2 linked regions of the Homo sapiens genome follow. The protein of the gene in region 1 binds, or shares a complex with, the protein of each later gene. Links are inferred from orthologs where the notes say so. Each region holds a gene or a part of one and is shown on either strand. Other genes may lie near its edges. The genes, in order: ATP2A1 and SLN.

Region 1 (15,644 bases):
ATTAGCCAGGCATGGTGGCGTGCACCTGTAATCCCAGCTACTTGGGAGGCAGAGGCAGAAGAATCACTTGAACCCAGGAGGCAGAGGTTGCACTGAGCAAGGCCGGGTGCGGTGGCTCACGCCTGTAATCCCAGCACTTTGGGAGGCCAAGGCGGGCAGATCAGGAGGTCAGGAGATCGAGACCATCCTGGCTAACACGGTGAAACCCCGTATCTACTAAAAATATAAAAAAATTAGCCAGGCATGGCGGCGTGCACCTGTAGTCCCAGCTGCTAGGGAGGCTGAGGCAGGAGAATGGCGTGAACCCGCGAGGCGGAGCTTGCAGTGAGCCGAGATCACGCCACTGCACTCCAGCCTGGGTGACAGAGCAAGACTCCATCTCAAAAAACAAAAAAGAAAAAAAGAAAAGAAAAGAAAAGAAAAGGGGTCTTTGCAGATGGGATTAGCAAATGGGAGGAGAAAAGAAAGGCTTTCATACCTTCGGGGATGGCAGCCACAGCCAAGGCCACGGCAATCTTAAAGTAGTAGATGGCCCCGCGGAACCAGGAGCCCCCATGGACGGGGTCGTTGAAGTGGCCAATGTTGATAAGCCAGACAGCCACACAGATGAGGGAGATGACCTTGGAGAGCTGCTCCCCAAACTCATCCAGCTTCTGCTGCAAGGGGGTCTTGTCCTGTTCTGTGGCAGCCATTTGGTCTCGGATCTTCCCAATCTCGGTGCCCACACCAGTGGTGGCCACGATGCCCAAGGCCTTGCCGGCTGCAATGTTGGTGCCCTGGGAAGGGAAAGAGGAGGCAGGGAATCAGGCAAGAGGTGACCCTCATGCCGCATCTCCCCACGCCATCTCTTCTCACACGCCATGTTTCTCTCCAACCCGGGCACCTGGCTTGACTGAGTGTGTGATGGCTGGTCCCGGATTGCTCACCGAGAAAAGCATGTTCTTCTTGTCCTGGTTGACAGCTCGGGGGTCAGGAACGGGCTCCGTGTGTTTGATGACAGATACAGACTCGCCTGTGGAGAAGGGGCCAAGGGGTTTTCGGATGACATCATGTCCTTCTCCCAGGCTTCCCGTGCCTAACTCTCTCCCTGCTCAGCAGGACAGCTCCTGGTAAGGACCAAGTAGCCATCCTGGGGGATGTCTGGACTCTGGAAGAAGCCACTGAAGGCAGCTAGGAAGTCCATTGCTCCTTTTTTTTTTTTTTTTTTTGAGACAGAGTTGCAGTCTTGTCACCCAGGCTAGAGTGCAGTGTCAAGATCTCAGCTCACTGCAACCTCCCGGGTTCAGGCAATACTCCTGCCTCAGCCTCCCAAGTAGCTGGGATTACAGGCACATGCTGTCACACCTGGCTAATTTTTTTTTTTTTTTTGTATTTTTAGTAGAGACGGGGTCTCACCATGTTGGCCAGGCTGGTCTCGAACTCCTGACCTCAAGTGATCCGCCCACCTCAGCCTCCCAAAGTGCTGGGATTACAGGCCACCGTGCCCAGCCAGAAGTCCACGGCTCTTAAAAAGACCTCGACCCAAGCCCCAGCTTGACCACTAACAAGCTGTGTTTGATCACCTAACTTCCATGTGCTCCTCTGTAAAATGGGGACAAGGACATGTACACTGCAAAACAATGTCTTGGGTGAAAATCAAATAAGTGGACATATTTGGAGCCACACTTTTAACTGTCAAGCATGTTTCTGGGAGGAAGGGGGACCTACACTTACGACCATGCCTCCCTCACCCTAAGAGCAGGGGCTCAGCAGCAAGCCTGGGCCAGCCTAGCCCTTGCCCCCTGGGACCATGGGGAATGTTTTCTGCCTCTTCTTCGCTTCTCCCTGCCAGTGCGGAAACAGAAGCAGCTATGGTGGTTTTACAGAGACAGGGTCTTGCTCTGTTGCCCAGGCTGGAACGCAGTGGTGTGATCATAGCTCATTGCAGCCTCAAACTCTTGGGTTCAAGTGATCCTCCCACCTCAGCCTCCCAAACAACTGGGACTACAGGTGTGCAGTACAATGCCCAGCTAATTTTTAAAAAAATTTTATAGAGATGGGGTCTTGCTCTGTTGTCCATGCTGGACTGCCGTGGTAATCATAGCTCACTGTGGCCTCAAGCTTCTGGGCTTAGGCAATCCTCCCACCTCAGCCTCCCAAGTAGCTGGGACTACAGGTGCACACCACCACACCCAGCTAGTTAAAAAAATTTTTTTTTTATAGAGATGGGGTCTCGCTGTGTTGCCGAGGCTGGTCTGAAACTCCTGACCTCAAGTAATTCTCCTGCCTCAGCCTCCCAAAGCACTGGGATTACAGGTATGAGCCACCACGCCCAGCCTAGCAGCCATGGTTTTCAGTGTATCTGAACCCCCTATCTTGTCCTAGAATCTCATGGCTCCTCCCTGGAGGATTTTTGAGGAGGCTGAAGGAGACAGGACAGTTCTCGAGGTGTCTGTGGCCCTATGTCCATGTGGAAGGGGTGGGCTGGTGGCTATCTAGAGAGTAGGCAACAACATCCAGCCTTCTCCCACTACCCGTCCCGTTTCAGGCTTGGGACAGAATGGAAACGTCAAGCAGGTCAGGTGCAGTGGGTGGCTCACACCTGTAATCCCAGCACTTTGGGAGGCTGAGGTGGGTGGATCACGAGGTCAGGAGTTCAAGACCAGCCTGGCCAAGACGGTAAAACCCTGTCTCTACTAAAAATACAAAAATTAGCCGGGTGTGATGGTGGACGTCTGTAATCCCAGCTACTCTGGAGGCTGAAGCAGGGAATTGCTTGAAGCCAGGAGGCAGAGGTTGCAGTGAGCTGAAATCGCGCCACTGCATTCCAGCCTGGGTGACAGAGCAAGACTCCATCTCAAAAAAAAAAGAAAATGTCAAGCAGTGCTGCCACTGCCACAGCCACTACTAGCGAGCCAGGGGGAGGCCCCAGTGCTGGGTTTTGTTTTGTTTTGTCTTTTTTTTTTTTTTTTGAGATGGGGTCTTGCTCTTGTTGCCCATGCTGGAGTGCAGTGACATGATCTTGGCTCACTGCAGCCTCAGCCTCCTGGGTTCATGCAGTTCTACTGTATCAGCCTCCTGAGTAGCTGGGACTACAGGTGCCTGCCACCACGCCTGGCTAATTTTTGTGTTTTTTGTATTTTTTGGTAGAGATGGGGTTTCACCATGTTGGCCAGGCTGGTCTCTAACTCCTGACCTCAGGTGATCCACCCACCTCGGCCTCCCAAAGTGCTGGGATTACAGGCATGAGCCACCTCGCACAGCCTTTTGTTTTTATTTTGACAGAGACAGGGTGGCCCAGGATGGAGTGCAGTGGTGTGATCACAGCTCACTGCTGCCTTGACCTCCTGTACCCAGGCGATCCTCCTGCCTCAGCATCCTGAGTAGTCAGGACTACAGGCACTCAACAACATGCTCAGCTAGTTTTTAAAATTTTTTTGTAGAGACAGGGTCTCTTTATGTTGCTCAGACAGTGAGGGTTCTCTGTCTTTCCACTCACCTCCCCCTTGTTGCCTCTTCCTCCCCACGTCCCACCCCCATGCATCTTCCCACCCAGGCCAGCAGACCTGTCAGGATGGACTGGTCAACCCGCAGCGTGGTGGATTTGATGGCGAGGATTCGGATGTCTGCAGGGACTTTGTCCCCCACTGTGGAGAGAGTAGGGAAGAGGGAGGTCACTTGGGAATGGAATTTTCTTCCTTCCAAAGAAAAACCCAATCTGTGTCTGACTCGTTCTCCTCATCCATCCTTCAGGTCTCAGGGAGGCTCCCAGGGCTTGCATCAGGCCCTTGGCTTGAGCTCCTGAAGCTGGCAACCCCTCATCGTGACACCCATCCCTTCTGCCCCCGTGTCCACGGCGAGATGGAGTCTCGCTCTGTTGCTCAGGCTGGTCTTGAACTCCCACATCTCTTCCCACTGGCTGTGAGCCCTGAGAAGGGATGGGCAGGTGTACTGCTCAGCACATAGTACATGCTCAATAAATGCCCACTGAATGACTGGAGGGGAAATTAGGGACAGTCCAGCTGTAGGACAAGAAGCTATAATTGAGATTGGGAGACAGGAGTGAGAAAGGCAAGGAGGAAAGGCAAGGAAAGAACTCAGGGAAAACAGGGTGCATTAGAGAGAAGGGGTGTCGGGGTGAGAGAATGAAGTGGACAGCCAGGGAAGGCAAGGAGAAACGGGAAAATATGGAAATTGAGAAAATCGAGGGCAACCAAGAGGAACAGTGGAGGGCAAGGCAGGAGAGGAGTGAGCGGAAGGTATGAGTGGGCAGGACTCAAGGCAGCGGGGGGCACAGGGTGGTCATGGAGAGGACCACATATCGGGAACCTGACAGCCCGGTCTGAGCATCTCAGGGAGGCAGGGAGGCGGGGAGCCAGGGAGAGTGAGCTGGGGACATGGACAAGACAGGATGGGATGGGACAGGAGAGAAGCGGGGGTTGGGCAGGAAACAGGTGTGGAAGAGTGGGGCGGGCAGCACAGGCTGGAGAGTGAATGGGTGGAGGTGAGGCCAGGGAGACGCACAGGTGGGCTGGCAGGCCATGGAAACCACCTTGTCGGGGGGCTGGAGAGGTGGATGCCCAGCCAGACTCAGAGACCTTAGGAGGAGGCTAAGAATCTCCCAGGGCCGCTGCCTAATTCCGCACTGGTCCCACGGATGGTACTGGGGACAGGGTCCAATCGCTTTCCTTTCCCTCTGTTTCTAAGGATCCCTCCTGTGCCAGAGGAAATGGACCGAGGAGGGAGGAGGGAGGTCGGGATAGAGTCGGGCGGGACACCCTGTCACCCAAGCCCGCGTGATATTTATAGACATTCATGGCGCTGACTCCATGCTGTCACGGCGGCAAGGCTGCCCTGTGATGGGGCGCTGGGGTCTTCAGCCTGCCCTCACTCCCTCTGCCCAAGCTCCCTGGGGTGGTGATTCGGATGTCTGCTACAGGGAAGGAGGCCTCTGAAGAGCCATTCCCCCTGGCAGGGGCCTGGAGCTTCGGGAAGGCCTGCTCAGGGCAAACATAAAAACCGCTGAAGGGGGCAGAATCCCAGTAATCTTAGCCACCCGGCCCCCACCCCTCCCTGGCCAGGCATTAAGTGTCCCTTGCCGCGGGCGGGGCCCTCCTTGAGCTCCCTCCTCCCCGGTCGCGTGCTCTGTGCCAGGCCTGAGTTTCCCTTACATGGTCGGGGGCTCGAGCCTTCGGCCTCCCTCCTCCCTTCTGCCCTCGCTCCTTCCCCTTTGAGAGGCCTCAAGGGCACAGAGAGGTCAAGACTGAAAGCTGACCAAGCTTGGGGTGGGTGGAAGGAGGGGGAAGCCAGGCCCGGGAGGGGGTGGAGACGGGGCCATTGGCAGGGACCGGGTTCCACCTGTTGCCTGCGAGTGCAAGTGCAGGGTGAGAGGATGGGGAGCAGGGGGTCTGCCTGCAGCCTCAGGGACAGGACTGGCTGTTCCTGCTGAGACTCCGCTGGGGAGGGGGGGATGTGGCCGGAGTGGCCTGGGATGACCTTCTGAGGAGTCGGAAAGAGAAGCAGACTCCGTCATCCTCCTGGACACCTGGATCCGAGCCTGACCAGCCCCCGGCATCTCCTAGGCCTCAGCCCCAAGGCCTCCCATCCTGGACCAGCCGTCCCTGTCACTCACCAGCCACCTCCACGATGTCCCCAGGGACGATGTCCCGAGCCTTGATCCTTTGCACTGACTTGCGGTCAGCCCGGTAGACCTTCCCCATCTCTGGCTCATACTCCTTCAGGGCCTCGATGGCGTTCTCTGCGTTCCGCTCCTGAGGAGACAGGGTGGAGGAGGCAGGGTTATACACAGGAGGCAGAGTTATGGAGTTGTGGCTCCTGGCACGGGGGAGGCAACAAAACCCCACACAGGCAGGGGTGTGTGTATGTTGAGGAAACTGTCACCTACAGGTGAAAACAGGTGAGAGGGTTTTGGGGAGGGAACAAAGAAGAATCAAAGAAAATCAGGCCGGGCATGGTGACTCACGCCTGTAATCCCAGCACTCTGGGAGGCTGAGGCAGGCGGATCACTTGAAGTCAGGAGTTCGAGACCAGCCTGGACAACATGGTGAAACCCCGTCCGTCTCTACGAAAAGTACAAAAAAAAAAAAAAAAAAAAAAAAAAGCCGGGCGTAGTAGCACGCGCCTGTAATCCCAGCTACTTGGGAGGCTGAGGCACGAGAATCACCAGAACCTGGAGGCAGAGATTGCAGTGAGATGAGATTACGCCACTGCACTCCAGCCTGGGCAAGAGAACGAGACCCTGTCTCAAAAAGAAAAATCTAAATAAAAAATCAAAGAAAATCAGAGGCTGCCCTGCAGATGCTGTCCTGGACCTGTCAGCACCACAGACACAGGTGGCTCTGCTGCGCCTGTAACACTGGGGCAAAGAGAAAGTGCTATTTCTCTCTTTTTTTTTTTTTTGAGACTGGGTCTCACTCTGTTGCCCATGCTGGAGTGCAATTGTGCAATCTTGGCTCACTGCAACCTCCGCCTCCCCATTCAAGTGATTCTCCTGCCTCAGCCTCCTGAGTAGCTGGGATTACAGGCACCTGCCACCATGCCCAGCTAATTTTTTTGTATTTTTAGTAGAGATGGGGTTTTACCATGTTGGCCAGGCTACTCTTGAACTCCTGACCTCAACTGATCCACCCGCCTCGGCCTCCCAAAGTATGAAAGTGGCTATTTCTATCCTCAGTGTTCAGAAACCAGTGAGCACCAAAAAATGGCTTATAGCCTGACATTTCTTAAAACCAAAGCAAGGTAGCATTTGGGTTTTCACTTTGGAAATGACCTAAAAACAAAACAAAACAAAACAAACCAGGAAGCAGAGGACAGGACATGTAGGGGGTGGTCAGGTCAGTGGAAGAAGGAAATCAAGCTAGCGTCTATTGAATTCCTACTGTGTGCCAGGAACATGCATCATCTTAGTCGATTTCACACTGGATTGCTAGCCCCATTTTATGGATGAAGAAACTGAGGCTCAGAGGGATGAAGGAACTTGCTCAGGGTCACATAGCCAGGAAGTGACAGTGGGTCACAGTCTCCCACCTCTTCCCCACACTCCATCCCATTCCAGACCAGGGGATAGGACCAGAGGAAGAGGCAAGTATGGGGGAGGTGATGGAGGAGGAGGAGACTGGAGGGAGGGTTGGCCTCTTCTTCACTGTTGGGACATGAAGGGGTAAGGAAGGGTCAACGCTAACCTGCCAAACCCCCACGATGGCATTGGCAATGAGGATCAAGAGGATGACAAAGGGTTCAACAAAGGCAGTGATGGTCTCTTCACCTTCCTCAAACCAGGCCAGCACCTGGGGAGCAGGGGAAAGGAGAATGACAGGTAATGAGGCCCCAAAACAGATGGAGAAAGGAAGTGGACCACTGCAAAGGGGAGAACTGTGCAGGAGAGTGCAGGAGCCAGCAGGAGGGCCGGGCACCGTCGGGGCGCTGTGGCCCCACATCCGTCTGAGGGTCTGTCCATCCACTGCAGGTCCTGCCACCGCCTTACTCAGCGGGATGGGCGCGCACAGACTTGCACCACTTGGGGGATTAGCTGGGAATGCTTTCAGGTTTCCCTGACCAAGCTGCTGGCTTAGAAGCGAAGCTCAGGCCAACCCCCCGCACAGCCACATCCATCCCACGGGAGCCAAAACCCGAGAGGAAAAACCCTGTGGTCTTCGCAGGCGGTCTGGCCCCCGCAGCCCTCCCCCTCGGCCAAGGCAGGGAAGCTCCGGTTTCACGAGGGAGCCGGAGCGGGGATAGGGTTACGGGGCCTCCTGCGCGCGCCCCGCCCCAGCTGTTGCCACCGCCAGGCAGCAGGCAAATGTCAAGGAGCAAATCTGAGAAGGGAGAGGAGAGGCCCTGCCAGCTTGTGCTTAACGCGACGGGGCCTGCGTTCGGAGACCAAGGCACAGGGAGGCTTTCGTTGCCTCCAGAGTCCCCAGCGAGGCTCACATGCTGCGGAAGAACCCGCGACATGCAGATGGACCGCGGGATGGGGAGTAGCCCCCAGGGCGGGAGAGGAGGCAGAGCCCTGGAGATGCCCTGCGGGGGTGGGGGTGCCTAGGGAGCGCGGGGAAGGGCTAAGGCCAGGCTGGGCGGGTAATGAGGGATGCCAGTGCCCTCCCTGACCGGGCGCCGGGCTCCTTGGAGTCATCATCACACCGCCGCGCTTTCCCGCCACTAGGAGCGAGTCCTCCCCTCGACCAATCAGCGTCAGGAGGCTGGGGAGGGCGGGGCAGGGGCGCCGACGGGCGCGGGGATTGGTGGAGCGGCCGTCCGCCCGGCGCATGCCGGGAGTGGCAGTGGCCCCCCGCGCCGCAGCCGGCATCGCGGCGGGACCCGGAGCCCGGAGTTCGGGTGGGTAACCCGAGCTCTCCAAGCTCTTGAAGCCGCGAGGGTGGCTTAGCTTCGGTGTTTTGGCTGAGAACACCCTTAAAGCTTAAAATAAAACCTGCCTCTGGGGTGCAGGGGAGGAGAGAGGAGGACGCGAATCACACCCGCTGCTGCGCGCCAGCCCGCCCCGTCTGTACAATGGGATGCTCGGGACTCGGACGGGAGGATCCAGTGACTGCGAGCCCCGCATTCGCCCGATCCCAGCCTCACACCCCCAGCCAGCCCCCAGAGACCCTCCCACACTTACGAAGGAAATGCATGCGGCCAGGAGGAGAATCCGCACCAGGAGGTCTTCAAACTGCTCTATCACCAGCTCCCACAGGGTCTTCCCTGGGGGAGGAGGCAAGGGGAGGGCCCCGGGTTAAGGTCTAGTGGGTGAAGGTCTGGGATGGAGCGCCCTGGACTCCGGCCTGCAGTGGGGAGGCTCTAGGGTGGTGGGCAGACAGCTTGGTGCCCAGAGAAGGGCTAAGAAGCTCGCCTGGAGTCCAGAAACAGACTCGGCAAAGTGGGGGGCAGTTCAAGGGTTGGCTGCTTCAAGGAGAAAGCGCCTGGGAGACTTCTGCCCCGGACAGGACTCTAACCTTTAGGGAGGGAGATTTGCCTTTTGGGAAGGGATATTTGCTCAAAGAATCTAAAGAGGCAGGGAGGAGGGAGTGGGACAGGGCGGGGTGGGGGGTGGTCATTTATGAGAGTTCAGGGATTCCAGTAACTTACCTTCCTCAGCAGGGAGCTCTACCCAGGAAAAAGAAGAAAAGGACAGATTCATTTGGGGTTCAGCCTCATGCCCCCCACACCCAAGACTTTGTGGCTAAGAGAATCAGGCCACCTTGAGGTTCATCAAGTTCATCCCATTAAAACCTCCCAAAACTCTGGATCTCGGGACTCTGTTTTCTCAGTATCTTCTTCCCCCTGCGAGCATTGGACAACGGCCCAGCTCTTCCTTAAGAAACCCTGAAGGGAGAAACGCGTGCATGCGTGTGCGTGTGTTTTGGGGGTGCAGGAGGGCATTAATTACCAGCCGCTCTTCCAAGGGACACTTACCATTGAGGCCGTATTTCTCCAGATTCCGCTTAACTTGGTCCGGGGTGAGGCCCGTGGTCTCACTCACCCCAAAATAGGCCAAACATTCCTCCGTGGTTTTAGCATGAGCGGCCTCCATTGTGCTCCCTTCCTGGGGGCCGGGGCCGGTGTGTTCCTTCCAGGGGGTTCCCACTCGTGGGGGGTCTTCCTCAGTGTGTCCAACTGCCTGTCTGCCTGGGTTTCTTCTTTTTACTCTCCTGCCCCCTCCAGGTTTTTCTTCCCTCCACAAAGCTCTGACCCCCGTCCCACTTGAGCAGCCGGCCACCCCCCGGCCCCCAGCTGGTCCTTATGAGGGAGCAGGGGGAGGCCGGGCTCCCCCCTCCACCAGATCAGGGATTGGCTGGCTGAGACTCCAGCAGGAGGTGGTCAGAAAAGAGAGATATTTCTGCTGACAGAGGGGGAACAGTGGGGCTGCAGCCTGAGATGTCACTCATGAGGGACGCAAAGGTAGCCCCAGCCCCAGGGAAGTGGGGTAGGGAGAGACTTCACTTTCTGTCATCTGCTACTGACCCTGCCCCCCCATTGCCTCGACTTCCCCAGCTGCATTGAATTTCCCATTCCAAACTCATCCCCCCAGTTCTTCCCGGAGCCCTCTTCCATCCCCGGCCTCACCTGTCCCTTTCCTCACACCCCCCTTCCTGCCTCATCTGCCCGGAGCCTGTTTCCATTGCCGCAGTCTCCTTCCTCCTCACCCCATTTGCTGAAGCAGTGGCAGAGATACCCCAAGCCTTTGGGGGACTGATGAAGGGAGAACATCTTTTGGGGGCTAGAGGAAGTGAGTGGCTCCTAGAGGGACAAGGGGAAGTGAGGGGAGAGAGTCAAGGGGACAGGGCCGAAGATGGTAACCCTACCCTAGGGAGGGGTTGCCACAGCCATCAACAAGGGATTTAGTGTCCAGGCCCTGGTGAGCAAAGCCAGCACTGCCTGTCTCTCCCCAAAACTGCCCCCCCCCTTCCCCATCGCTCTAACTCAGCCTCTGGGAACAGAGCCCTGAGGGCCCCCCCATCCTGGATAGGGAATCCCCACCCCACCCCCAAGAAAATGGGACACCAAGGCAGCCAAGTAACCCAAGAGGCTACAGAATGTGCTGATGGCAGAGGGGGAGGGGTAACTGTCTCAGGATGGGGGCAGGGGTCACCCCAAGTCGTGCACTGAGGGTCACCTCATCCCACACTGTGCTCTAACCAACGGGGTTTCTGTGGCCAGCCCCAGAGGCCTGTGGTCTGCGCTGCACTCTGCCCTGCTGCATCTGTCCACGAGGGGAACAGGATCAGGCCCATGCTGTGTGCGTGCAGGAGCTAGGCAGACCCCACAGAAAGGTGTCGGGGCCTGGGGAAGCTGGACCAAGCAGGGGCTCCAGACCAAAGGAATGGGGAAGGGTGGACTTCTGGGGACAGGTCTGGGGGAAATAAGGACAGATGTCTAGACCTAGGGGGAAAGGGAGCAGAGACACAGAGCCACCAGGGTCAGAGGGAAGTCCGAGCAGCAGTGGGGAAGAGGGACAGCAGGGAGCCAGGTGGGCGGGGACCCCGGCGCTGGGTGCAAAGCCACAAGTTGTTGCTGAATGCTGGCCTTGGTGTCAGCTTCCTCAGAGAAGCAGCTGCTCTGAGCTGCCCCTCCCCACCCCTGCTCCAGGATGGGGGCGTCTCTTGGTTACCACCAGGGCAGCTGCTGGAGGAGCCGAGGGAGGGTACCAGGGGTGCAGGAAGGGGAGGACAGGCAGGCAGAAAGGCTGGATGAGAGTCAGGGTGAAAGGTCAGTGAGGGGAAGGGGCCTGGTGCCCTGGGCTCAAGTCCGTCCTCTGTCTAGGCCTGTTTCCTGAAATGAGCAGAGGCATGTGGACTTCCTAAGTGTGGCTTCTTAAGGCTGCTTTCCATTCTGGGGCTCAAACTCCGAAGCAGAGGACAGAATAGGAGACAGCAGAGCAAAGAAAAGGGAGGCCCCCACTTTTGGGGAGGGGGATGGCAGCAGGGGTGGATGGAACTTGAGGGTTCAGCCTCCCAGATGCATCCCTTCTGCCTGGACTTGGGTGAGGCGCGGCCTCCTGGGTGAGTTGAGGACAAGGTGCTCCTTCCTGCCTCCTTTTCACAGTTCCAACAAACCCCTCCCCTGAAGCAGAATCCTGCTGTGACCTGAGGGGAGTGGGGGACAGTGGGCTGAATTGGGGGTGCAGGAGAGCATTAGCAGCCTCTCTTCCAAGAGACACAGCCCCCGGCACCTCCACCCGGCCCAGCACCCACCGTCTCCGCTGGACTCAGGCTCACACCCGCCAAGGCTTTTGGCGCTGGCCGGCGTCTCCCCACCGGCACCTGGAGGAGTGACAGGGGCTACTGTCTTACAGCAGTGGGAATGCCCAAACATGGAGAGGGGCAGACGGAGAGATGGGCAGCTTCGAGGGAGTCGAGAGCCTGAGACAGAGGGCAGGGGGCAGGCTTGGCAGCACATTCCTGCCAACAGGCCTTTAAGGTTATTCATTTCTACCTCCCCCGGCTTCCCAGAGGGGGAAACAAGCCAGGGAGGGAAAGCCACCCGCCAGGAGCTGCAGAAGGGCTGCTCTAGGGAAGGCTGTGGGTGTGAACTGCCATGGAGGGAGGCTGAGCCAGAGGCGCCCTCGGGGATCCCTTCCCACAGGGGTCTCCACGCCCAGGGATGGAAAGTGATCCTCCTGTCACACCTGAGGGCTGGAGCTAAAAGCATGGGACACAGAGACACCCTGGCCAGTCCCTGATGAGTGCAGAACTTCGGTTTAACCATCTGTAAAGAAAGGCTTAGAGGGAAAGTCTCTCAGGCCCCAACAGCCAAGACATGCTGGTCTGAGGAGTGGGTGGGTGTCCTCGTCCCCCTCCCCTGCCCATCTTTGGAAGGCAGGTCCCTGAAGGCTGGCAGGGCTGGGGGAGGGGGAGCCTCAGAGCACCAGTTGCTGCTGGAAGATTAGGAGGGGATCAGGCCCTGCTTACCTCGGGGCACCACAGCCTTCACTGGCCATCTCACTAAGAACCCAGCACCCGGCTCTCCAAAGCTTCCCCCACTTTCAAGGCCGGTCCTATCCCCAGTCTCCTGAGGCCAAGGTTTGGGGAGCCCCAGAAATTAGAGCAAGCAGGAGAGCCAGCAGGCTTCCCTCGGCTAGCCCCCCGCCTGGGTGGCCTGGAAGCCCAGCTGTCTCCTGTCCATCTCCCTACAGGACACAAGGCCCAGAATAGCAAGGTCATGAGCGTGGGTAGGGCCTCCTGGAGGTGGGGGCTGAAGCTGAGGGGCATGAGGGTGTGGGCTCCTTGCTGCCTGGGCGGGGAGTGAGGCAGGATGCTGAAAGGCGGAGCTGGACAGTGGGGAAGGGAGAAGGCCGAGCTCAGCGGGTGGGATTCTTCAGCCCCAGGCCCCTCCTTGTTGGCACCCACTACCCCCAGAGCTGGGAAGCCCAGGGGTGCCCTCTGTTGGAGGGCACAGCCACAGATCAGGAAGACTGATTCCAAGAGCAGAGCCTGTGTTTTACGGGGTGGAGGGGTGTGCCACAATGGGGGTGGTGTTATAAACTCAAATGCCCACAGGGCCAGGCCCTCCCAGGGAGCAAAGTGAGCTGGTGGGGATGGGGCAGATGTGGAAGTGGACCCACATCACTGGATCTTCTGATTTTTAAGAGAAGCCAGTGATTTTTTTTTTTTTTTTTTTTTTTTTAGACAGAGTCTCGCTCTGTTGCCCAGGTTGGAGTGCAATGGTGCGATCTTGGCTCACAGCAACCTCCACCTCCTGGGCTCAAGCAATTCTCCTACCTTAGCCTCCTGAGTAGCTGGTATTACAGGCGCGCACCACCACACCCGGCTAATTTTTTGTATTTTTAGTAGAGACGGGGTTTCTCCACATTGGTCAGCCTGGTCTCAAACTCCTGACCTCAGGTGATCCACCCACGTCGGCCTCCCAAAGTGCTGGGATTACAGGCGTGAGCCACCACACCTGGCCTGTGATCTGAATTTTTAATGTGAAACTCAAATGGACACCATGTCCAGGCCAAGCAAACCATGTCAGCAGCTCTGACTCAAGATGAAACTTCACATGTCACAGATGAGGATGCTCAGGCCCGGCGTGGCTACACCTTGCCCAGGCCAGTGAGTGGCAAGGCCAGGACAGAAGCTAGTGCCCTCTGCCATCCCTCCAGCCTGGCTTTGAGAAGGGGGCCATTGGGCCCCTCTGCGGCTACCCTGTGACTGCCACGTTCAATCTCTTCCAGCACAGCCACCGTGCCTCCCATCTCTCACTGCCAGCTCTCTCTAGGGTACAAAGCCATAACTCAGGAAGGGCCGCTGGAGATCACCATGCCTGCCATTCACAGCACTGTCCCATGACAAAAACTCGCAGGAGACCCCAAGAGCATCATTTAGTGCTCCACGAACAAGGCTGTCAGACACAGGGATGGCTCCGAAAGCACAGCACTGCAGAATGATGGGGACTGGCCTGGGCCAGCCCTCTGGCCTGTGGGCACTGAGTGGGCTGCCTTCCCAACCCAACTGTCCCCAGTCCCCACAGCAAACAATGGCCATAGCCATCACGATAGAACCGAGATAAACCTTTTTATTTATTTATGCTTCTCCATTTTGTTTAAAACAACAACAACAACCACCTTAATGTAACTGACAGCCCTTCCCCCTCACCCTGCCTCGGGCTGGGGGTAGTTAATGGGGAAATGGCCCCCAGGGTGGGGCTGACCAGAAGAGCCCCTCAAGGAGCTCATGGAGCCCAAATCCCCTGCCCTGGGGAGGGGACCTGTAGTGTGTGACGGGAGCCTCTCCCGAGCCTCTGCTTGTACCATCAAAGATGCCCTTGGCCAACAAGGGTCAGGAAGCATGGGGGAGGGATTTCGGCCTCCTCTGTCCCTACCCAGCCCAATCTCACGAGCAGGGCTGGGGGGTTTAAAAAGGGTGGAGCGGGTGGGGTTGGCTCACACGAAGGAGTACTGGTTGTTAATGGCCCTGGGGTGGCCCCCTTCCTCTCCATCACCCCCTAGTGGTGACTGCTGCAGCTGCACCATTGGGGGCACCCCCGCGTCCCCACCAGACCCAGCGCCCTGGGCCTCTGAGCCTGGGGCTATGGCCTCTTCCAATTCAACCACGGGGACCAGCTCAACCACGGGGACCAGCTCTTCCGGGACCCCTCCACCGCCCGCTTTCTCTTTCTCTTGCCTCTCTTTGGCTGCTGCGGCTGCTGCTGCCGCCACTTCTGGCGCCCTCGACGCCTCTTCTGCCCCAGGCTGTGGGGGATCTGTCCATGAAGGGGGTTCAGGGGGCTGGGGTGGGTCATGGGAGGTGGTCGGTTCTGGATAGGAATGGTAAGAAAACAGACTGATTGTGGAGGCAGGTGAGCTCCTGCCGTGGCCTCCCCTTCACTCAGCCCCCCAGGAGCGTGGCTGTCTCCCCACATCCCATCTCCTGAGCAACCCCCCATCCATGGAAGATGGATCATGGGCGGTGGTGAGAGGAGGACCACACTTACACACAGTCACTCGCTCCGAAGGGCATGAGGGTGCAGGAGGCATCGGGGTGGCATCCATCTCCCTCGCACACCCCCGCATGGCTCCCAGCCTGCTCCCGGCCTGGGGGGAGGGGCAACGTGGGGACAGATGGGACGGTGGGGCAGGGGAAAGGGAGAGATCAGACAGGGACATGAGACATTGAGGGAGGAGGGAAGGGGATCAGACCGAGTGTCCCCGGGAAGGGCAGGCCCAAGGCCAGGCTGCGACGGAGGGCAAAGACGAGGCCAGGATGGGTCCAGGAGACAGACAGACAATGGAACAGAGGATCCGATGGAATGGGGATGCGCCCGCCCACCTCTCAGCTGCCGCCCCGGCTCCGGCCAGGAGCCTTCTGCCTTCCTGTGTCCTATCAGCGCATTTCTTTCCCTTCCAAACCCCGAGGCACAACAGCCTCCTCTACCCTGCTCTCCCAAGCAAAGCTTCTCCTTGTGATAGTCCCCCCTCCCCGCCCCATCTTTCTGGCACACACACCTCACTTCTTGGGTGCACGGGCACCTCCTCCCCTGCAGACCTGCTCTGCTCACCCTGCTGTCGCTGGGAGGATGGGACATAGCTGACAAGGACAACATCACTGGAGCCTCCCGACTCCAAAGGGATGGGGTGCACCCGGAAGTGCTCGAGCATATCGAAAATGGACTGGAACCACAGGTGCTGGACCCGGCACTGACCCTCC
Region 2 (15,614 bases), on another chromosome or scaffold:
ATCTCCTTCAACAGCACCTTATCCTTATCTTGTCAAAGAACTTTTCACACCATTATAACTACCCATTTAACATATCTGTCTACCCCACTAAATGGTATGCTCCATGAGAATGGGGCTTGGCTTTCTCGCCATTTTATCTCCAGTGTCTAGTAAATGCCCAGCACTTAGTTTCATAATAAGTACTTGTTGAATGAATGAATGAATGCAAGAGAAAAAAGCCAGAGTAGGATCAAGTCTATGAGCTGGAACTTCAGTTAATAACTAGGATTCAGTGCTCTGGTTCTAGAGAACTAGCATCTTGTTTGGGATAATCAGGCAGCGTTTCAGTGGATGGAGCCAACATTGAGGGACGCAGAGTTCTGTGATGAATCAGGGTACTTGAGGTCATAGGGAAGTTTGTACATAAAGGAGACTTATGAGTCAGACTGGGATTTAGCCATAATGACTAGGACTCCTGAATGTGAAAGACATTACATAATTCCTAGCCCCACCACTAAAGTTGTTAATGGATATCCTATACCTGCAAAGATTGCTCACAATGTGGTCTAAAAATGGGCCCTCTCAGTAGATTCAGTCACAGGAAGTTAGAGAAAGAAAGGAGTGAGGATTAACAGGCAAAAAGAAATGACATAGAGTACTGCAATTGTTACCTTGATCGAAACAGGCTGATATTTTAGAATACTAAAGAATGTGAGGGTAAAACCTAAAGCATAATCCAATGGTTTGGAGATCTATAACAAAGCATGATTTGTACTCAGTTCCCCATAGAGGTTAAGATGATCCTTTTCTCATTGTGGCTTCCCCACTCACATCTGTTTAGTGAAGTCTCTGATCCTCAGTTCCCAAATCTGCTAAATGGCATGAGTTATGGAAAGTGCCCAGAACAGGGCTTCATATACGGTAGACTCAATAAATGGTACCTGTTGTCAGTGTTGGCACCATCACTCAGATTTCTGTGAAAGGCCAGATGGTCCAACATCTGAAGGGAATGTTGTGGCTCTCCCCAACACACACACACACACACACACACACACACACACACACACTTTCTCAAACACATACACAAACAGTAGGTTTTCTGCAAATAGGGGAAAGACGGCTAACCGTCTACTGAGGGCCCTAGAGCCACAAGTCTGTGAGTACATATGCTGCCTACTAAATCATTAGCAGTTGCACATCCATATGTGTAGTCTAACTGAAGTTAGGGACAACGCATTGAGGACTATATGCTGCTATTTCCCAATTTGGAGAGGAACCTCTCAAAATATAACATTTTTTCTTTAGCTATTTGAGGATTCTTAATCCTGGCTGCACATTAGTGTCACCTGGACTTCTTCGAAAAAAAGAATAACATTCAGGTTCACCCAAGGCCGAATAAATTAGAAATGGCTAGGAATGGGGCTCAAGCTTGCGTGGTTTTGCTAAGGGTCCCCCCAAGTGATTCTAATATGTTAATCCAAGGGTAGCAGTCTGGAAGGGCAGCACTGGCATCACTTAGGAGCTTGTCCAAAATGTAGGCTCTCAGGCCCCACCCCAGACTGAATCAGAATTAGAATGGAATTAGAATCTGCGTTTAAATGAGACTTCCCAGTAATTCACAATCACATCAAATTTTGAGAAGCAAGGGTTGGTATCAGTGATTCTCAATTCTGGCTACACAGTGTAATCATCTAGAAGATATTTTAAAAAGATAGATACTTGGGCTCTATCCCCTGGGATTTTTATTTAATTGGTCTGAGAAGGACCCAGCCTCAGTATTTTGAAAAATCACCCCTGGGATAATTGACTTTCTTTGAATGCAGCCAAAGGTTAAGAACTATAATGTGATGTAGTCAATGCCTCAATGACAGGTCAAATTCTTGGCAAGAAATGCCTTCATGAAGGCGGCTATGTAAGATGAGGTTTAACAACATTCCCTTTCTCCATGGTTACCTCAGCACAAATAGCAAATTTGTTCTGTCTAACATGGGGTGTTCAGGCAACACGTTTAAGAAACATCTATTTTATATGTCTTTTATAAACATATAAGTTTGCATTTTCTATTTTCCTCCTTTTAGAACTGTAGTTGATTAAAGACTAGCTCCATTTGTGTAATAACAATAATCAAAATAGACTATGCTACTCTTAGGGACATGACTCATGTTCTTGTGTTACTTAGTGTAAATAATTTTAAATATTTATATGAAAACAAACATGAAGATATTATAAGATAGAAAATACATTTCTTGTGGATTCTAAAGATAAAACACAAGACTTCAAAGAAATGTTGCACTTTTAGCCAGCAATTCAGCCTGTGCTTCAGACCCCGTAGTGGAATGGATTTATTCTCCCTCTGCCCTTCAGACTAGTTTAGGGGAAAAGTTTGAGGAGCGCTGAACCAATGGAATTACTTGAAATATGACACAGTGTGTTGACTTGGTTTCAAATCTTCAGCAGTTGGAGCATCTTGGCTTACCTCAAATGCTAGAAATACGGTAGCACTTGTCACTCCAATCCCAGCCAAGGGTCAAATGCTCTGTCACACATGGAAGCTAAAATAAGTTCTAGAAGTTGTTTTTGAAGTTGACTTAACTTTATTCACATGATAGCTATAAGGGCTGACAAAGACTTCCTCTAACATTCCTTCTGGCAGGTTGAATTAGAGTTTGGTTGCAGACCGTGTGGGTTGAAGGGATGTGTGGTGAGACAGATCAGGGGCTTGTAACAATCCTACATCATCATGAATCCAGTTTAATTTTAACTTTGTGGCTTGTCTAACACATTTTCAGTTAAGAGTTGGGGAATAAATCTACCGTTCCCTGGCAAACACTTGGCAGCCCTTGGGAGCAGCATCTTTGGAGAACACATAATCAATCCTAGCACTACAGCATAGCAGATATTGTGAGTGCAGGTCACAGGTGCCCTCGGATGGAGAATGGCATCCTGTGACAATGACAGCAGTGGGGTCTCAGGGCATAGAGCAGGCAGCTCCGGAGCATCTCAGTCAATCCCAGGACCATGGCATGGCCTCTCAGTACTGATAGGACCTCACAAGGAGCCACATAAGAATAACCGTAATCAAGACAATAGTGAAGTTGAGAAACAGCTCCCGGGTGTTTATCCCCATTTTCACAGCGGCTTGGTGAGAACTGCAGGCAGATTTCTGAGGGCACACCAAGGACCTCTGGCTTCTCCTCACCTCCTGATAAAACATAACAAAGAAAACACAAGGAGATTAATGGGCATTCCTGTATAACAATGCTCGTTCTTTCCTCAAAGGAAACAGAAGTGTTGTGGAAAAGGAGAGTGTGATGGGCTAAATTGTGTCCCCCAAAAATCTACATGTCAAAGCCCTAGCTCACAGTATCTCAGAATGTGACTGTGTTTGAAGATAGGGTCTTTTAAGAGGTAAATAAGTTAAAATTAGGTAATTAAGGAGGGCCCTAATCCAATATGACTAGTGTCTTTATCAGAAGAGATTAGGACACAGACACATGCAGAGGGGAAGACCATGTGAAAACACAAGGAGAAGATGGGCATTTACAAGCCAAAGAAAGGACTCAGAAGAAACCAACTGTGCCAACACCTTGATCTGGGACATGTAGCCTCCTGACAGTCTTTGGACTGGAGACTTCCCTAAGTCTCCAGCCTACCAGCCCACCCTGCAGATTTTGGACTTGCCAGTCTCTGCAATCGCACAAGCCAATTCCTTAAAAACAGACACCAATCCCCTCAACACAACACATTCTATTAGTTATGTTTCTCTGAAGAGCCCTAATGATTACAGAGAGAGAGCCTGATTTCTCTGCCTGATGTCATAAAGACCACCATTTTTGTCCTGACTTTTTTCCTGTGATGATCGTATTGGTGCTTTTCATAAAATGTGAAATATTACATTTTTCTTTCTCCAACTTCTGTGTGTGTTTGCGTGTGTGCGTATGCATGTGTATACTTTTCTTAAGAGTATCAATAAGCAGGGGTACCAAAACAAAAAAATTTTATGGTTTAGTATTGTTCTTGCTTTGAATTACATAGATAAGTGGGATGCCATAATCTTTCAGGCCTCAGGCTGCTGTAGGTCTTCATCTAACTCTACGGAAAGCAGAAAGTACTTTCAACAGCTGCATGGCCTCTGACAAGTCCTGCATTGGGCACATAGCCTACTGGGATCAACCAAAAGCCCCTGGCATAACAGGCATTCAGCCGAAAGAGCAAGTGTTAACTTCATGGGTACTTCGGTTTCAACAAGGGCTTGTGCCAGCTATTTTTAGTCAGGTCCAGGATGTGCCTAGATTGTAAACATTTCAAAGAGCAGGGATGGTATCTTCATAGTATGTACAGATTGTCCATACAGGAAATCATACTTTGAGAACATGTGCAATGAAGTCATCAAACTATTGTCTTCAGTGAGATGGTGTAAATTGCACATTATTTATGCAGCCTAAATGAAATTAAAGATTTATATATTTTAGATAATTCGATATCTATGTTTTAGACATTTAGGACCAAAGTCTACTGTAGAGTGAAAGTTTAGGGAGAAAGGGTATTTTGTGTGTTTGCTAAAGGTGAGAGTTCAAGAGGCTGAAAGGGTTGTTAGCAAGCTTTTGGTCTGAGTGGTATTTTTAAACTATCTAGCATGACTGAATTATTAATTGTAATTACTGTATTGATTATATTATCAATGGACCAAATTGTTAATTGCATAAATGCCAACTGAATGATCATTTTTCATATTGTGTAATTGGCATAACATACAGGTTCAGCCAGGCATGGCAGTCGGTACCTGTAGTCCTAGCTAATTGGGAAGCTGAGGTGGGAGGATCCCTTGAGCCTAGGAGTTTAAGACCAGCTTAGGCAACATAATGAGACCCTGTCTCAAAAAAAAATACAAGTTCAAATCAGATGGTGCCAACCAGTAGATATATAGCCAAATGATGACAGATTTATATTTCATCTCCCTTTTAATTATTATCCATCTTTTAGACCTCAGCATGAAGGAAATAGTAAATTGCCAATGAAAACCATTACAAATGGCTGGGCGTGGTGGCTCATGCCTCTAATCCCAGCCCTTTGGGAGGCTGGAGTGGGAGGATCACTTGAGCCTAGGAGTTCAAGACCAGCCTGGATAACACAGCAAGACCCTGTCTCTCCAAGAAAATAAAAAGGGGAAAAAATAGAAAATCTTTACAAAGATTTGCATGGAGGAGAAAGTAAACAGAATAAAATGAATGGATCAAGGAAAAAGGATTTATGAGAATGTACAAAAGAGCAGAGGAGAACAGAACGGTAATGAGTCTTGCCAAGGTGCCTGGAGGCAAAGGAATGAGAAACGAAGACAGACTCTTTCTTATAAACTTATCAATGAAATAAAACCATAGTCCAAATGTCCATCTATTTGGGTAAGTTCTCAAGAAATGCAGAGATAAGCAGAAAATATGAAGCCTGGCTTATAATGGTCAAAACAATTCAAGGAGAGCAAAACAACGGTCCCACCAAATCTGCCTATTAAATTAAGCTGTTAAGTCATGGGAATCATGGATAGTGATCCAACAGGATATACTCAGAAAATGAGAAAAATACTATTGAAAGCTGTTCCACAGCTCTGTTTGTGTTACCTTCGCAACAACTCAGGCAAGTGTTACTGCAGTTTTTATCTTTCTCAAGATTACAGCTGAGAAACTGACTTTTAGAGAGAGGAGATTAAGATGTTTGTGTAATGACAGATAACAAGTTAGAGGCAAAGCTAGAATTAGCAGACTGGAACTAGTTACTAGAATTCCTAGGAGTTATGACACAAGTGAATTGTCACTGCAATTAACTGGCCTGGCTAAACAAAGTTAGCATAAATTTTCAACCACTTTGGAAAACAATTTAGCTTTCTTAGAATTAATGTTGAAAATGTTCATTCTCTAATATCTGGCATTTCACTTCTACCTTAAGACAGTCAAGGACGTGCGTGCCAGGTTACATAAATAAAGAGTTCACAGCAATATTATCACAATAACTCCAAACTGGAAACAACTCAAATGTTTATCAACAGCAGAATGGATGATAAATTGTGGTATAGTTATACATTTGAATTTCATAAAGCAAAGAAAATATATGAACTATAGCTACACAGAAAATGGGTAGATCTCACAAATATAATTGTTGGGTGAAAGAAGAATTTACAAAAGAAACAGAGAATATGACTCCATTTATATGATGTCAAAAATAGGGAGGTTAATCATATTGTTTAGGCATGCAGACATAGATGGTCAAATTATAAAGAATAACAGGGACAAGAGGATCCCAACATCTTGGGGCAGAATGGGGGTTGATCAAGAATGGGCTTCTGGGTGCTGGCAATGATCTGTTTCTTGACCTGGATGATAATTATAGAAGTGTTGCCTTTCAGTTATTGTTTAAACTGTGTATGTTTATGCACTCTTAACTTTTTTTTTTTCAGTCATTTCTGAATTAGCAGGCTACCCATCACACTTCTTTCTTTCTTGGGATTTACCTCTTACTACTTCTTGCACTTTAATGGTGACCTTGAATATTTGTTGTTTTATGTGATTTTAGATGAATAAAACATGAAGAGTTAAGGTGAGAATTTCTAGTGAATTCAATTCAATCAACACATATGCTAACTGTAAGGTGTGGTGTGAACATTCCTTTCACACACATTTATACACTTTAGGAAGAATGAACCAGTTAGGCAGAAATTCAGATCAGCCAAGTTCCATTTTTCTGCTTTTAACCAATAAAGACACTTTGGGTTTCATTTTAAACATTCCCTGAAGTCAAGGTCATGCCATATGATCCAGTGATTGCAAATGGATGAACTAAAACCCAAAAAGCTCTGAATAAATTGTGCAGGAAGTTTGACATTGGCTTTCTTTGAATGGAGACTTAGAGAAGATAGAAAAAAGACCATCTTCCATAATACAAGAAAGAAAAAAAATTTTTTTTTACTAGGAAGGGAGAAAATGCATACCCTTAGGAGAAAAAAAAAGGAAAACAGAAAGCAATAGTACTCACTTTATATCTTAAGGCATGCTGTATCCAAGGGGCATTGCCTATTTCATTAAGAAATGCAAACATTCCTCTGCCTTTCTCATTTGCAGCTTGTACACACACACACACCGTATGCTAAGCATAAAAATCCTGCAGTTACCTGAAGAGGATCAAAGACACACCCTGGCTATGGCAGGTTTCTCCTCGCTGTCTCCAACTTGAGCTCCAACTCCTTCTCCCCTCCCAGGCTGTCTGGACTCCTGGACTCTGGGCAGCGCCTAAAGTAGTCCGTGGAAGCTGGCAATCACTGTGATGTCACTGATGAAACATCTCAAAGGAACACCCTCCGAAGGTTCGAGGCTATTTGTGTTCGGGGGACATGGAAATATGTTGACTAAGACTTTGTTCCTTTGGCTGCCAATTTGCCACCACCAGGATTTAAAAACCTTCTGTTTCCAGTTGACTTTTAGTGCAATTGATGTGGGTTTTAAATGTGTCTTTTACATCTTCATGAATAACTTTAACATGTCTTTAAAACATCATAAACCAAGAATGATAGACTAATTTTAACCAATCGATGCTGCATTTGACTGCTCTCCCTAGTCAGCCTGTGAGGTGTAAAAATGTGACTTCATTTTACCACCCATATCTTTAGTTATTTGAAATGTGAAGAGTTTGCTGCCTTACACCCACACATATGCACACCCATACACACACACACACACTCCAGAATTCAATAGGCATCTTTAGCTCTTTCAAAACTGACTTTAGTCCAAGCAGTGAAAGCTATCCCCTCCGTCACCTGCTCCACGTAACTTTCCAGCTAAGCTGTGCATTGCAAGTTTACACGTGGATCTACAGTTTCATCTGAAACAGCCGAGGAAGTCATGGTTTGTATATCTCTGGCAATAAATTAATAGAGCAGTAAACTCACACAGTTCAACTCAGTTATTTGGATAGATTGGGAGTGGAAGGAGAACTGGGTAAAATTAGTGAAAAATGTGAATTATAGAATATATCTGAAAGAAAGAAAAGTATTATATAACTTTCTAATATGAACACTAACTAAAATTAGACTAAGATGAGTTTGTAACCAATGTATCACATGTTTGGAGCCCCTGAAGTGTTAAATTAGACTTGAAAGCAGATCAATTAAGTACTTTAAACATGACCCTAGCAATTGTGTTTGCTCAGCAGATCCTTTCTTTATAGATAATAGAGGAAATCTCCCCCTCTGAATTCCCAATTAGGGTCAATCAAAATAATGCATTCCCAAAAGGCATAAACAAACAAAATTCTCTATGCAGTTATGCTCATAGTCAAACCTTTCCCTCCATTCCTCATACCCCAGAGACATTACCAAAACAAGACTTTCCATTTCATTTCCTCATTTTAACATAAGCTTAGCAACGGGTAATCTTAATACAACATTCTGTCACCACTTGTCTTGTGAAAAGAGCGCTTGCTGAAGTGACAGAGAGTGTATAATAATTATAGTGCAACCGAACATTGGCAGTTATCTGTTGCCATCTGGCAAACTCCTTGAATGTAATCAGAGTTCTGTCTTCTGCCTCCAAGCTCTCACTAGATTGTTTCCCAGGCTGGGAATGTTTTTCTAGTTACCAAGCCACACCTGTCCCTTTTTGTAACCACTCAAAATTATTTTTTGTCAAATTAAAAAAGTTATATATTTATTGTAGGACATGTGAAAATATATTAAAGTATTTAAAACTTTTAAATTACTTTTAATCTCACCACCCAAAGGGGAAAAAAACAAAACTTTACTTTACTTTTTTTTTCTTTTGAGATGGAGTTTTGCTCTTGTCACCCAGGCTGGAGTGCAGTGGCGTGATCTCAGCTCACTGCAACCTCCGCCTCCCGGGTTCGAGCGATTCTCCTGCCTCAGCCTCCTGGGTAGCTGGGATTACAGGCATGCACCACTATGCCTGGCTAATTTTTGTATTTTTAGTAGAGATGGGGCTTCACCATGTTGGCCAGGCTGGCCTTGAGCTTCTGACCTCAGGTGATCCAACCGCCTCAGCCTCCCAAAGTGCTAGGATTATAGGTGTGAGCCACCGGGTGCCCGGCCTACATTACTTTTTATTCATCCGTTTGAGGCTGCATAGGCACAATCTCAAATTCCCAGGATATTTTTGGTAAAAGAATCTGAAACTTGAAAACCTTTTTTCTTAATTCATTTGGAATCAAATTATTTGTAGTATATCATGTGTTGATATTAGGTTTATGGGATAAGCATTTATTTTGTACATCTCAGATTATGAATTAGCTCTACAATATTTAAAATGTTAAATACAATAGCGAAATGTTAACGTATCACCAAAAGAGCTCTCCAATGTTGTCATTTTGTTGAATTGGTCAATTTCAAAGTAACTTAGAAGAAAAATTCTACTTCTTATTTGACCGAATTGATGGGTTAGTCTGGTTTGCCTCATTTAAGCATGTCTAAGCTGCACCAAGGACTACTGTGCCCAGTGCATTGACAAATTCCCAGACTTCAGACGCTTCTGAAAATTAGTGGTTTCTTCTGTAATGTCAAGAGATTGGGATTACACTTGGAATGTAGTTATCACTAGTTTAGCTTTACCCTCTCCAGAAACACATGCAAGCCGCCCCAAATCACCTGACAACTACTCAAAGGCATAAGGAGGGTTTAACCCTCAGGATCTGCAGGTTTGCTTAAAAAAAAAAAAAAAATCTTGTTTCCTGCAAGGAGCCAAAATAAAATAAAAATAAACTCAACATTATTTTACAAAATCAACATTATTTTTTCTCATTTAAGAAGTTGAGAATTCCAACATTTCAGACCTTAGTACCAAAGCAAATTCATCCTTTGCAATTAACGTTACTTAACTCTGCTAATACTTTCCTTCCTGAGAGCAATTGCCATGACTTAGCAGCATTCATTTCATATCAACTTTCTTTCAAGGTACTTCTCTGCCCATTGGCAGGACGACATTCTAAATAAACTTTGAAATTATTTCTCTGCCTACTAATCTAGAACTTAGCCAACGGCCAAAAATGTTAAGAAAACAACATTCACATTGACGCTGGCACTGAATCTCTAATTGGTATCTCCCCACCACCATCACCATATACATTCTCAGGTGTGAAAATGACATCCTTTGAGAATCAGTGCTGAGCTCTTGTGCCTGATCGGTTGCTAAACTAGCTCGTTTCATGTACTCCCCTCGTCCACCCGCCTTTTTACCCTGAGAACTGAAAAGTGAAGACCTATGTCAGTCCTAGAATTCTGCAAGTCTGCAACATGATGAGAGAAGTCACCAAGGCCTTGATGAAGGTGATAAGCTCTCAGCACTTCACAGTATCGAGCATGATCGTCTCAGTGGCCTTCTCACTTTGCCATCTTCACATCCAGCTGGTCATGGAGCTGGGAGAAAGAGAGCAACAGCTTTCTGCTATTCTCCCTCACTTTCCCAAACACATGAGTGAGCGCATGCCCAGAGAGAAATGAAAACCCTACTTCTTGAAGTTTTCTCCACGTCACTATTGCCACAGTCATCAAATAAGCCCTGCCTTTCTGGCCACGGGGAAAGCCCATGTAAAAGTCATGAAGAAACTTAAGTGGCCACTGGCAGGTCGACACAATACTGCTAATTCAAACACTTTAGCCCAAGCCATCTGCGGGAAAGTGGAAAGCAAATGGACCTTGAAGTGACAAAGGCCTGTGTTCGTATTCTAAATTTTCCACTTACTGAGTAACATTAAAAAAATGATCATCTATCCTTTCTGGGCCTCAGTGTCCCCATCTATAATATGGGAATACTAATAACCCTCAAAGATCTGTGATCAAGATCCAATTGATAATGTACGTAAAATCAACTTGTTCCTTTCCATCACTAAGATTTGGTACTACACCGATGTGTGTAAAGCCAAGCATAGAGCCTGCCTGGTCATAAGTTAAACCATGCTAGTTGTTTGAGGTTTTTTTCAATCCTAATCATTAAAAGTAAATAAATAAATGACAAGGAGGAACTCCTTTCTCTTGGACAAGTACAAAGCTTCTCTTTTCATTTATGACCAAAGGAGAATGGGCTGAGTGTCACTTCGTGTAAAAATCCTGTGAAACATGCACTAATATAAGGACTGACTTGAGCCCAGGCAGTGAATGGAGGGCATGGAGTTGAAGAAAGCTTGGCCTCCTTGACTCTGTCTCTCTCCTGCCACCTGTGTGTCTCTCAGATGCTGCCCAGGTACTGCCACTACAGAGCCGAGGGGATGTACATCAGAAGGCCAAGTCATCACCTTTGCCATTACTTCTGCAATTGTTCAACTGGTATCAAGTGAACACTACTAAATACACAGCATTGTTCTAGTCACACAAGAAATAATAATGACACAGAGTAGGGCTACTGCCCCCCAAAAGAAGAAGATTAAGAAAAGTAGACACTATTTGCAGTCCATCAACAGATGAATGGATAAAGAAAATGTCATCTATATACACAATGGAATACTATTCAGCCTTAAAAAAGAAGGAAAATATTGGAGAACATGATGCTAAGGGAAATAAGCCAGACACGACAAATACTGCATGTTCTTACTTATATGCGGAATCTGAAACAATCAAACTCATAGAAGCAGAGTAGAATGGTGGTTACAGAGGCTGGGGAATGGGGTGAATGGGGAGATGATGGTCAAAGGATACAAGGTCTCAGGAAGAACAAATATATTTTAGGCCTATTGCACAGGATGGTGAATATAGTTAATAACGGTGTATTGTACATTTCAAAACCGCTAACAGTAAATTCCATTGTTCTCACCATGAAAAATGATAAGTATTTGATGTAATGGATATGTCAATTAGCTTGATTTAATTATTCCACATTTGGTAGCCTATAAATATCTACAACCACCAATTGTCAATTTACAATAAAATTTGAATTTTTTTTTTAAAAAGGGGCAGCTGGCCGCAGTGTCTCACGCCTGTAATCCCAGCACTTTGAGAGGCCAAGGCGGGTGGAACACTTAAGGTCAGGAGTTCAAGACCAGCCTGCCCAACATGATGAAACCCCATCTCTACTAAAACAAAAATTAGCCGGGTGTGGTGGCATGTGCCAGTAGTCCCAGCTACTGGGGAGGCTGAGGCAGGAGAATTGCTTGAACCTGGGAGGCAGAGGTTTCAGTGAGCTGAGATTGCACCACTGAACTCCAGCCTGGGTGACATAGCAACACTCCATCTCAAAAAAATAAAAAGAAAGGGACAAAAAAAATTAGAATACAAGACAGTGTGAGAGAGGTGGCATCAGAATGACGTCAGGAAAGATGATAGGAGTACCTGGGTGAGATTAAAAGAGAGCAGAGCAACTTCTTACAAAGCATAGAGAGTGGTACTGAAGATGAAGCAGACTCATAAATGATCAACTAGAAGACTTGAGTTGAGCCTCAAAAAGAGAAAAAAAGCTACTTAGGGCTAAAATAATAATAATAACCACAACAATGTCAAGTAGCACTTACTAAACATGAATCACCTTATTTAATTCCTTCAACAATCCTGTGAGGTGGGTACAACATTCCTATCCCATGGAGGAGAAAACTCGGGCCCAGAGAGGCTGTGCCTTGATAAGTCGAAGAGTGCCTAAGTGACAGAACTGAGATTTAAAGCTTTTGGACCCAGCCCTGAGCTCTAACCACTACACGATAGTGCATTCAGGACAACTATGAAAGCATCCTCTAGCCCAGGAGCCTCCACCTCCTTTTGACTGTGCACTTTATTGATAAAAAATTTTACCATGATCACTGACAGAAAATGTATGTATTTTTAATAGATTATATGCAGGTGCTACTATACTAATTTATTGTGCATATTTTACAGCACACTAATAAACATTTTAAAATATGAGGCCAGGTGCAGTGGCTCAGACCGGTAATCCCAGCACTTTGGGAGGCTGAGGCGGGTGGATCACTTGAGATCAAGAGTTTGAGACCAGTCTGGCCAACATGGCGAAACCCCATCTCTACTCAAAATACAAAAATTAGCTGGGCATAGTGGCAGGTGCCTGTGATCCCAGCTACTCAGGAGGCTGAGGCACGAGAATTGCTTGAACCCGGGAGGCGGAGGTTGCAGTGAACCAAGACTGCACCACTGCACTCCAGCCAGGGGGACAGAGCAAGACTCCATCTAAAAAATAAATAGATAAATAAATAAATAAAATATGAGGCACAAAGCAAGAGAAAGTAAAAGTCTACTTTGTTTGTTTTTCCCCATCAGGAGACTACTTTTCCCCCATTTGGAGACCTCTGCAATACTCTATGGCACCTAAAAAAGAATGCCATAAAATTTAGCTTTTGGTTATACATTGAATACTGGAAGGTGAACAATAAATCCTTGTTGAAAATATAAATGATTATTACCTCTGTCATTACCCACTTGTGACAACTGTGATTTTTGTCTCACTAACTGAATTTAAACTTCAAAGTCACAATTGCTTGTATTTCTTTTGTTTCTCTAACTGTGCCCTGAACCAGTGAAGAAGCAGAGTAGATGCTCCAAAATGCATAGCATTGATGCATTTTGAATGATGCATTTTGAGTGATGGAGGTTGAGCCTCCATCACTTCACATCCCTGCTGATGTCCAGGTATGTCTGAGCATGGTAAAAGTCAGTGGGGAAGTCAAGGTCAACATCAAAGCTACTCATACATGGACCTCAAAGCCTCCCAGGAGAAACTCCTCTGAAGGGAAGTGAACCAAGAAGATACACATAGGGCCAGGTGTGGTGGCTCACACCTGTAATCCTGGCACTTTGGGAGGCCAAGGCAGGCAGATCATCTAAGGTCAGCAGTTCAAGACCAGCCTGGTCAGTATGGTGAAACCCCAACTCTACTAAAAATACAAAAAAAAAAAAAATCAGCCAGGCGTGATGGTGCACACCTGTGGTCCCAGCTACTTGAGAGGCTGAGGCAGGAGAATCGCTTGAACCCAGGAGGCAGAGGTTGCAGTGAGCCAAGGTGGTGCCACTGCACTCCAGCCTGGGCAACAGAGCGAGACTCGTCCCAAAAAAAAAAAAAAGATACACAAGGGTCAGCAACAGGGAGAACAGACAATGCTTCCATACCAGGGAACACACATTCCCTGTGTTAGTTCAGTCCCATGAGAAGCAGATGCCAAGATGACACTAAGTGTGCAAAAGTAAAGCATATTAGGGGGAATGACTCTGAGAGAAAATAGAAGGAAGTGGGGAAACTGAGCTAGTCATCAAATAGCAATCCAGGTCTGACCCCAAGAGGAGAGAGGGCCAGGGGACAAGAAGACTGGATGGCAGCATCTTAGACTGCAATGCTAGGGAAAGTCTGACAGGGCCATCAGGAAACCTCAAGTCAAAATCTCCTGTTACAGGTGCCCTGTGTCTCCCAGGGATAAGTCAGCCCTAGTGTTCCTCTCATGCTCAGTCATCTACTGGGAGCAGCCTGTGGGAAGCCGGCCTCTGTGTAAACGTGATTGTGATTTCAGAGCACAGCAGCTGGTCCCACCCCCATTATGGTGCAGTCAGTTCTGAGAGGCGCATTCTCATAGCTTTCACACTCACATTCTGCCCATTCTACTTCCCTAGAGCCTGGCCTGGTAGGGGAGAGGGCTATGGGCAAAAACTCCATAACTCTTTACTCTTTAACAATTAACCTCAACAGCATGTAGCACTGAAAGGGAGAGAGAGTTTCTCCCTGAAAGTGTCATGTCGCAGACCTCAGCATATCCACGGAACCAGTGGTGTAATGTCCTTCAATAGAAGTGTCACGGAGCCTGGCAGAAGCAGCAAGACTGTCCAATAATCACTTACCTGCCGTTTATATTAATCTCTGCAGGCCTCAGCAGCAGACAGCAGCAGAGAAGTGCCAGAGCTCAAGAGCAAGAAAATGACAGACCGTATGTGATACCTGACAGTACTTGTTCATGAGCACACGTGAGCCACCCCCAAAGTTGCTGGAAATAATCAGGAGGAACATCATAGTGGTATGCAGTCTTGCATAACAGGTGGGAAAAAGAGCCAAAAAAAATATGTGTTACTCCTATTTATAATAACCCATCTTAAGTCCTGGATTGGTGAGGTGACGCCTGTTAGCATCATTTGACTTGGAACCAATTAAACTCCTCTTCTCTGGAACAAGTATATTTCTGTTCTATAATAAGATTCTGTAAACAAATGGCTTTCTCTCAGCACATTAAACATAGTTACCAGGGGGAAAAAAGAAAAGAAGCAGCCAAAAATATGTTTACTACTGGGCTAATACCATCTGCCCTCAGAACACTTCCAGATTTCAGATTGGCTTTGTTATTTTTTGGACGGGGAAATAAGAATTCAGCAGTCTGTTGATGTGCTGTTACTGAACTGTCCAGGGAGATTCTAGCCAGACACGCCCACTTGAAATATGCTGTTCCTTTGTGAATCTGATCAAGGGTATTTTCACTGAATCTCTTCTGGGAATCTGTCAGTCAGAATAACACAATTGCAGTTACAGCAAGAATAATAAGGATTAGATAAAATTGCTTGTTGTTCTCTGTGAAGAAGTTCATTTGGCTTTAGCTTTTGGCTATTAAAGCAGAGAGAACAGAGTCCTGAAGAATCATGAAAATCTATCTCTGCTCTCTGTATGAGTAATGAG

What was found.
Region 2: the proteins of ATP2A1 (region 1) and SLN are in contact, whole or in part, in a crystal structure (PDB 3W5A), measured with the Oryctolagus cuniculus proteins. The link is inferred for Homo sapiens from one-to-one orthologs. Residues at the interface, in XP_069919846.1 of Oryctolagus cuniculus: Phe88, Val89, Leu96, Ala100, Ile103, Val104, Trp107, Arg110, Asn111, Asn114, Arg324, Lys328, Trp794, Leu797, Gly801, Leu802, Thr805, Ala806, Phe809, Trp932, Ser936, Leu939, Leu943, Leu946, Ile947, Val950, Pro952, Leu953, Ile956; in NP_001075856.1 of Oryctolagus cuniculus: Met1, Glu2, Arg3, Ser4, Thr5, Arg6, Glu7, Leu8, Leu10, Asn11, Phe12, Val14, Val15, Thr18, Val19, Leu21, Ile22, Trp23, Leu25, Val26, Tyr29.

The regions. Positions count from the first base shown.
Region 1 is NC_000016.10:28,872,557-28,888,200, reverse strand, and holds the start of ATP2A1 (sarcoplasmic/endoplasmic reticulum calcium ATPase 1), read right to left. Parts: upstream 9,714-15,644; 5' UTR 9,530-9,713; coding exon 9,412-9,529; intron 9,245-9,411; exon of another isoform or gene 9,103-9,244; coding exon 9,085-9,102; intron 8,713-9,084; exon of another isoform or gene 8,701-8,712; coding exon 8,618-8,700; exon of another isoform or gene 8,280-8,617; intron 8,159-8,279; exon of another isoform or gene 8,107-8,158; intron 7,287-8,106; coding exon 7,182-7,286; intron 5,751-7,181; coding exon 5,612-5,750; intron 3,627-5,611; coding exon 3,546-3,626; intron 1,013-3,545; coding exon 927-1,012; intron 777-926; coding exon 479-776; intron 1-478. Other genes in the region: SH2B1 (SH2B adapter protein 1), read right to left, coding at 14,381-14,754, 15,496-15,644. UniProt on the Homo sapiens protein: Key regulator of striated muscle performance by acting as the major Ca(2+) ATPase responsible for the reuptake of cytosolic Ca(2+) into the sarcoplasmic reticulum.
Region 2 is NC_000011.10:107,704,825-107,720,438, forward strand, and holds SLN (sarcolipin), read right to left. Parts: upstream 7,233-15,614; 5' UTR 7,139-7,232; intron 3,182-7,138; 5' UTR 3,107-3,181; coding exon 3,011-3,106; 3' UTR 2,554-3,010; downstream 1-2,553. UniProt on the Homo sapiens protein: Reversibly inhibits the activity of ATP2A1/SERCA1 and ATP2A2/SERCA2 in sarcoplasmic reticulum by decreasing the apparent affinity of the ATPase for Ca(2+). Also inhibits the activity of ATP2A3/SERCA3.